Homo sapiens: one gene and its partner. The main gene of each other region encodes a partner of the protein of the gene in region 2 in a complex. Links are inferred from orthologs where the notes say so. Each region holds a gene or a part of one and is shown on either strand. Other genes may lie near its edges.

Evidence for each region.
Region 1: the proteins of KATNA1 (region 2) and KATNB1 are in contact, whole or in part, in a crystal structure (PDB 5OW5), measured with the Mus musculus proteins. The link is inferred for Homo sapiens from one-to-one orthologs. Residues at the interface, in NP_035965.2 of Mus musculus: Leu5, Gln6, Ile8, Val9, Val12, Arg16, Ala19, Leu20, Leu21, Gly22, Tyr24, Tyr31, Tyr41, Leu50, Lys53, Trp54, Gln56, Val57, Glu60, Ile61, Val63, Glu64, Gln67, Val68, Asp70, Ile71, Thr74, Leu75, Ser77, Phe78; in NP_083081.2 of Mus musculus: Leu485, Val486, Asp487, Glu488, Ala490, Met491, Gln493, Ile494, Arg495, Gly497, His498, Met501, Phe502, Val504, Leu505, Thr506, Arg508, His509, Leu512, Asp513, Val515, Arg516, Trp519, Thr521, Asp542, Leu543, Ile546, Gln549, Lys550, Leu553.

What each region holds. Positions count from the first base shown.
Region 1 is NC_000016.10:57,745,708-57,749,615, forward strand, and holds part of KATNB1 (katanin p80 WD40 repeat-containing subunit B1), read left to right. Parts: intron 1-3,908.
Region 2 is NC_000006.12:149,646,824-149,650,731, forward strand, and holds the start of KATNA1 (katanin p60 ATPase-containing subunit A1), read right to left. Parts: upstream 1,892-3,908; 5' UTR 1,646-1,891; intron 1,421-1,645; exon of another isoform or gene 1,298-1,420; intron 1-1,297. UniProt on the Homo sapiens protein: Catalytic subunit of a complex which severs microtubules in an ATP-dependent manner. Microtubule severing may promote rapid reorganization of cellular microtubule arrays and the release of microtubules from the centrosome following nucleation.

The DNA of each region.
Region 1 (3,908 bases), on a different chromosome or scaffold from region 2:
GTTTATAATGTAAGGACGCATAAGTGTCATTTACCACTGACTATTTCTTTTTAATAACTTGGTTTCCCTGGAGTTAATAATAGTTCCTTTTTTTTTTTAATCTGTGTGTTTTCTATGTCCATATTACTCATTCATCCCCAAATTCTCTGCCAGAAGAGTAAAGCTCCTCCTGTTTCTTTGAAACCCATCCCATAATCCAGGCGCCTTTTCTCAGAGCCTCTCCTCTGGTCCTAGTGACCTGCAGCCCAGCTGTCATCCTGGGCCTCTGTGTCTCTTCTCTGGGGAATTCTCTCCATCTGTTGTTCCTGGTCCCACGCCGCAACCTTTCTTGGTTTTCTCCCTCTTTTTGATGGAGCACATTCTTTTGTAGCTTTCTGAGAAAATGTGCTGGGAAGGCATAGTTTTGGAGAACTTCCATGGCTGAAAATGACTTTCTGCTACCCCCATCATTTGCTTTTGTGTTTGTTTTATGAGTTTGAGTATAGAGTTCTATGTTGGCAATAAAATATCGCCCTCAGAATTTGGAAGGTGCAGCTTTTCTGCCTTTTAGGTTCTAGGTTGCTATTGGGAGGGGCCGGTGTTGTTCTGATCCCAGATCCTTCACAGGGGACTGGCTTCATTCCATGTTCTGTCTCTTCCTTCCTCTCTCTCTCTCTTTTCTTTCCTCTCTCTCTCTGTCTCTGCAGGCTTTTAGGGTCTTTGTCCCAGTGTTCTGGTGTGGTGAGCCTTGGGGTGGGTCTGCTTCCACCCTGTGCTAGGTCGTCACTGGTTTCATGCGGTTGTGGTCTGGAAACTCATGCCCTCAGTTCTGGGCTGAGCGGAGAGTCTCGCCCACTGCTCCTGTGCTGTGCCTCGGTGCCTTAGCAGGTGGTGCCAGCTCTACGGATTTTTCAAGAGAGGCTGGAAATCTGGAAATTCATGTGCCTTGGTGCCTTAGCAGGTGGTGCCAGCTCTACGGATTTTTCAAGAGAGGCTGGAAATCTGGAAATTCATGTGCCTTGGTGCCTTAGCAGGTGGTGCCAGCTCTACGGATTTTTCAAGAGAGGCTGGAAATCTGGAAATTCATGTGGAATCCACCCATTTAAAAATGTTGACAGCTCATTCAACATTTGTTTTAGAACACCATGCAGGCCAGCACTGTGAGGTCCAAATAAGACCCGTTTGCCTGATGCTTTTCTTTTCTTTTCTTTTTTTGAGACAGTGTCACTCTGTCACCCAGGCTGGAGTGCAGTGGTGTAATCTCAGCTCACTGCAACCTCTGTCTCCCAGGTTTAAGCGATTCTCCTGCCTCAGCCTCCTGAGTAGCTGAGACTACAGGCACGGACCACCATGTCCCGCTAATTTTTGTATTTTTAGTAGAGACGGGGTTTCTCCATGTTGGCCAGGCTGGTCTTGAACTCCTGACCTCAGGTGATCCGCCCACTTCAGCCTCCCAAAGTGCTGGGATTACAGGAATAAGCCACCATGCCTGGCCTGCCTGATGCTTTTTGATAGCCCTTGTTGGATCATCCCGCGTGCCAGGCAGGAGGCCACCTACCTGAAGCCCTGGAGAGGAAGCAGCAACGTGGATTTTGCCGAGGCTGCTTTTTCCAGAAGAGAGCCCCTCTGGCCTGGCTGAGACTTCAAGATTCTTCTGGGCCTCTCCTTGGTTCATGCTCTATGTTGGCGGCAGGGCAGCAGCCATGAGCCACACATGCACAGTGGCAAGGTTCCCTTTGCTCAGGAACAGTGGGCTCTCTGTGTAGGTGGTACTCAATAAAGATGCACGCAGCCTCTTCAGTGATGCTTGCCTACTCAGTGATGGTCAGTTTAAGAACAAAAGAGCCCCAGGACCTCTTTGATAACAAACAGGACTGCAGGCTTTGCGTCTCGGCACGTGATCGCACTGCCTGGCCACACCAGGGCATGCTGTGCTTGGTGTCGCTGAACTCAAGCGGGCCAGGGAGGAGTGAGTCCAGGATGGCTGGGCTCTCATGGAGAAGATGGGAAGGCTCAGGCAGAAGGTGGGCAGCTCCCTGGACCTGAATCCCAGCGCGTGGGCACCAGCCATTCAGTATTCACCGAAGAACAAGAGACAGAAGGGAGAAGCCGAGGGCGCCGTGCCCCCTGTCCAGGCTTTCTCATCCACAATTGTTTTGCTCACAGGGGAAATGTGAGGAATTCCTTGAGGTGGCTGAGAAATGAAAACTGAAGATTGCTGGATTCCTGGGCCCTGGACGGCCAGGGCTGGCTGCTCCACAAGGAACTCATTACGAACTCACGGCCCAGACTCCATCCTCAGAGAACCCGATTCAGTACTGGGGTGGGCCCAGGATCTGGATTTTAATAAGCTTCCAGGTGATTCCGATGGACAGCCAGGTTGACAGATGGGCAAACAGAGGCCCAGGGAGAGCACCGAGCTTAGGAAAACCCCAGTAGCTGCAGGTAGCAGAGCCTGGGACTTGAATCCCGGTGTCAGGACTCCCATCCCAGTGTTGTCTGTTCTGCCATTGGATGGAAGAGAAACTTGCCATCAGCACAGCAGGTAGAGCTAAGACCTCCGGCCCCCCTCCACACCCCCTCGCCAGAGTGCAGGTGACAGTGACAGACAGGCAAATTGAGGCCCCAGGTGTGGAAAGGTTCCAAAGAGAGCTGCTCTGCGGGCATGGTGGCTCACACCTGTAATCTCAGCACTTTGGGAGGCCAAGGCAGGAAGATCACTTGAGGCCATGAGTTTAAGACTAACCTGGGCAACAAAAGGAGACCCCATCTCTATTTTTTTAAAAAAAAAAAAAAAAAGGAGAGAGAGAGAGCTGCCTCATATCGGTTGCCTTGAAAGGCCACCCATCACTGGAGGGTTCAGATGTAGGCTGAGGAGGTGCTCAGCTGGGAGGCGTTGGGGGTTCCTGTGTGGGGCAGACAGACCCCGGAAGCCCCTCCACTCTGCAGTTCCTAGATCCCATGATTGAATGTAGGCATCAGAGGCCTTCGTGGGACAGAAGAGCAAGGGCAGGAGTCAAGCCGGAAGAATGTGGTCCTGCCTGCTTTCCACAGCGCAGCCAGAGGGCAAGGGTAGCTCAGCGCAGGGGATCCCACGGGATCTCACAGGAGGGCGGCCGGTGCTTCATGCAGCCAGCCCACACAGGGTGGGACTCCGCCACATCCTCTCTGGGCAGGGCAGGATTTTGGAAGCCTTGCTGTGGGATCCAAGCTGAGTGGGCTGGGAGCGGGTGTGGACTGGAGCAAGAGCCAGCGTGGCCTCCTTGGCCAGGAGGCAATGCCCAGCCCCCAGCAGCACCTGATAGCTACACGGAGCAAGGAGTGACAGCTGCAGAGATTCTGGTGCAGGTGAATTGGATATGCATTCGACAGACTCCAGAGGGATGTGAAAGTATCCAGACCCAGCTCCAGCGCCAGACAGGGCCAGCTGCAGAGGGGCACTGAGGCCTGGGGAGGAGGAGAGAAGGCCCAGCTTGCGGGACAGCCAAGAGCAGAAGGCAGGCCTTGTGCAGGAAGAAATGTGAATGGGACTAATTAAGACTGGCATTTATTGAGCACTTACCATGTGCAGAGCCCGTGCTAAGCACTTTATGTATGTTTACTCCATTCTGTGACCCAACATGAGGCCCAAAGACAGTAAGTGATTGGCCAGGGTCACACCACCAGTGAGGAGCGGAGCCAAGGCTGATCCCAGTATTGTCTGATGCCAGAGCCCACATCCTGACTTTGGGGGTAGAGAAGATCATACAGTAGAGTTCATTTAATTCACCCAGTGCTTGGATCTTGACTCTGCAGTAAAGTGTTATATATGGAATCTTGAATACCTCCTCTGACAGAGAGCTCACTACCTCACAAGGTGACCTATTGCACCTTGGCTCAAAACTAAGAATGGCTGGACTCCCACATTTCCTGACCCTGGCACTTGGGAT
Region 2 (3,908 bases):
ATTTGGCATGTTATCAACACTGACCATATTTATGTGATAATACTATCTTTTTTAAACAGTCAAGTGGCTAAAAAAACCCAAACTATTGTTAATAGAAATTCAACAATGTTGTTAATAGAGTGAATTCAACAAGATTCTCTAATCCTCAATATTTGTCAGCATCTTGATACCAGTTTCAAAATGAGGTGGAGAATCCCTTGTGGACTACATAGCATGCCTATTACCTATAAAAATGTAAACGCTTCTTGAATAACCAACGCTATAAAGAAGCTTTATATAGCTTTTCATAGTCTAGGAATGTTGGGAAGTTGATCACTACTGCGTGTTTTTTTTTTTAAAGGTATTTACAGGCCACAACTTGTTAATGTTAATACAAAACAAAGTTTTGCTCCTATTTCTTGGTATAAGAACAAAAACCGGCCGGGCGCAGTGGCTCACGTCTGTAATCCCAACACTTTGGGAGGCCTAGGCGGGCGGATCACAATGTCTGGAAATCGAGACCAGCCTGGCCAACATGGTGAAACCCCATCTCTACTAAAATACAAAAAATTTGCCGCGCGTAGTGGAGCGCGCCTGTAGTCACAGCTACTCAAGGAGGCTGAGGCAGGGGAATCGCTTGAACCCGGGAGGCGGAGGTTGCAGTGAGCCAAGATTGCGCCACTGCACTCCAGCCTGGCGACAGAGCAAGACTCCGTCTCAAAAAAAAAAAAAAAAAAAAAAAAAAGAACAAAACCCAGCTCTTTTGGAAAAGAAAATAGGGCTTTATACTGAGACATTTAAGCCCGTAAAAACATTTCAAGAATCTGTCTTAACATCTACTAAGGTGATTATCATTGTGATTACGTGACAAAGATCTACTGCACCCATTCTAAAACATCGGGAATGTTTTCAGCAATAACTAGAGGTCTAATTTCAAAGAGGAAGACGTAAATTAGTGCTTTCAAGAGAAAAGAGCATCACTGTGCTGTTGGAAGTTAGTAACTAATATAAAAGCGGCCCTTCGCGGTTTTAACAGGAAACTATTTTTGATTAAATAAGAGCTTGAGATTATCCACTGTAAGGCACTTCAGGATCTACGTTTATCTCTAACTTTGTCATCACATTTGTATGAAACAACTGTTTCGAGGGAAAACTTTTCTAAAAGGTACCAACTCTAAACCAAAAGGCCCACAGGCCTTCCAGAGGACGCCGGGCTCTAGAATAAATAAGAAATAACATCCCCAACAATATCACTCGAACCTAACAAATTTTAAGAAAAGAAGTTGCCTCCCAATGTCATGGCCATCGGGATTTTTACCTGTGAGGGTTTCGGGGTGGGGGGCGTGAGCGGGTTCTGGAGAGAACCAGTCGAAAAATCGAAGAACTAAAAACTCGGCTGGTGACTTCGCTAACGACACAGATCAAAAGATGGGATCGACAGGAGCCCCCGAAAAGTCCTCCGCCTGACAGGATTCCTCAGGTAGGGGGACTGTCACCTAAGCCAAGTTATCGTGGACAACAGCAAGGACCTAGGACCTCAGCTCAGGCACAGGCAGGCTCACGGAGGGTTGCGCGGCGGGTTCTCGCTGTGGGCCCCCCGAGTCCCTCACCAGCCCGGCCCTGGAAAATCGGGGGTCCCCAGAGCACCGCCAGAGTGAAAACTCACCTGCGGCGGCCCAAGCTCCTCGGGAAACCGCCCAACGCCAGGCACAGGGGATTGGCGGAGTGGAGATCCCGGCAGCGAGGAAGGAGGGCCTGACCCAGTCCAGCCCACTTTGCTCTCCGCTCACGGCCCCAGTACTGCCCAGTTCAATCGTCAACACCACCTGCCGGCGCGGCTCCTGCTCGCCGAGAATTTGAAGACAAACCCGCCAGGGTCACTTCCGGTGCCGGGGACGACCTCGGCGACTCTGGCGCACGCGGGGCGTCGCCCCGGGAGCGAGGTCGCTGGGCGGGAGCGGCGGAAGAGGGTGTGGCCGGGCCCGGGGCCGCGCGTGCGCATTCTTGCACCGCCTCCTCCCGGCGGACGCAGCGGAGACCAGGGATAGTATAGACCTTGGTGTAGATGGTATTATGGTACTACCTCGCGCGCCTCTGTACCTTGTTCAGGTGCTTGCTCACTTTCCCTCCCACTTGATTTTCACCACACTCACACACACACCGAGGTCAGGTGTCTATTTTAGAGGTGAATGTCCAGGATCAAGCAATTCGTTTATGACAAATCCTGTTTTAGAACCTAGTATTCAGAATTCCCCAGCTGGGCTCCATGTCATGACATAACAATAGGGAGGAGGTAAACAAAGATTCTCGGACACACTGCTAGTGGGATTTTATTTTCTTGATTTTTTAATCACCGTTTTAATATGACCAGACAAGGAAAATGATGCTATTTCATGACTTACAGATATGTACTGCACAGGGCTTCCTCCAGTCTCAATCTCCACCCTCTGCCATCACTTGAGGCAGAATAGGGCACTTCTCACACATTCCTTTAAAAACGCAAGGTAATTAAGTTTCTAACATTAAAGCATCCCGACTGGGCACAGTGGCTCATCCCTGTAATCCCAGCACTTTGGGAGGCTGAGGCGGGAGAATAGCTTGAGCCGGGAGTTCAAGACCAGCCTGGGCAATATAGTGAGACCCCCCGTCTCTACAAAAAGTACAAAAATTGGCTGGACATGGTGGCGCACGCCTGTAGTCACAACTACTCAGGAGGCTGACACAAGAGGATCACTTGAGCCCAGGAGTTGGAGGCTGCAGTGGGCCATGATGGCGCCATTGCACTCCAGTCTGGGAGACAAAGTGAGGCCCTATCTCTAAAAAAATAAAAGCACCCCAGTCATCTAACATAGACATGTAGAAGCAATTCAGGGGAAATACATCCATTCAGTCAACAAATGTTTACTCAGCAACTACTATGTGTGAGACAGTGTTGGCACTGGGTATACAGTGGTCACGAAATAGAATGTTTCATGGGGCTTAAAGTCTTGTAACGTCTCAACTGAGTGGAAAATGATAGTTTCACTGTAGTAAATATGAACTCTATTGTAATAGGGAACAGGAAACTATATTTAGTATATATTTTTGGAATCAAAACCAATTCAGGGAGGTACAGATTAATTACCCTAATTCAACCTTCATCCTTTATGTGAGTTCAAAGGTATGCTAATTTATAAAGCCAATTTACAGTTAAAAAACTTCTCAAAGGCCACAAAATTAATACATATTGTATGATTCCATTGATAAGAAATTCTAGGCCAGGCACGGTGGCTCATACCTGTAATCCCAGCACTTTGGGAGGCCGAGACGGGTGGGTCACTTGAGGTCAAGGCGTTTGAGACCAGCCTGGCCAACATGGTGAAACCCCGTCTCTACTAAAAATACAAATATTAGCTGGGTCTGGTGGCGCACACCTGTAATCTCAGCTACTTGGGTGGCTGAGGCACGAGAATCGCTTGAACCCAGGAGGCAGAGGCTGCAGTGAGCCAAGATCGCGCCATTGCACTCCAGCCTGGGTGACAGAGCAAGACTCTGTCTCAAAAAAAAAAAAAAGAAAAAGAAAAGAAATTTTAGAACAGGCAAAACTAATCTATAATAATAGCTGATCAGTGGTTGGCTGCCTGAGGCTGTATTCAGGAGGAGGGGGAGAAGAAATAGATTGCTGAAAGTCCCCAGGAAATATTTAAGGTGATGGAAAGGAAATGTTCTGTTAGGGTAGTGCTTACACAGGTGTAAACATTTATTAAAATTCATCAACAGTACACAAACTGGGCACATTTTATTACGTGTACGTACGCGTATTATATATGAAGATTTTTTGGGTTTTTGTTGTTGTTTTGAGACAGAGTGTAGCTCTGTCGCCCAAGCTGGAGTGTAGTGGTGCGATCTCGGCTCACTGCAACCTCCACCTCCCAGGTTGAAGCCTCACC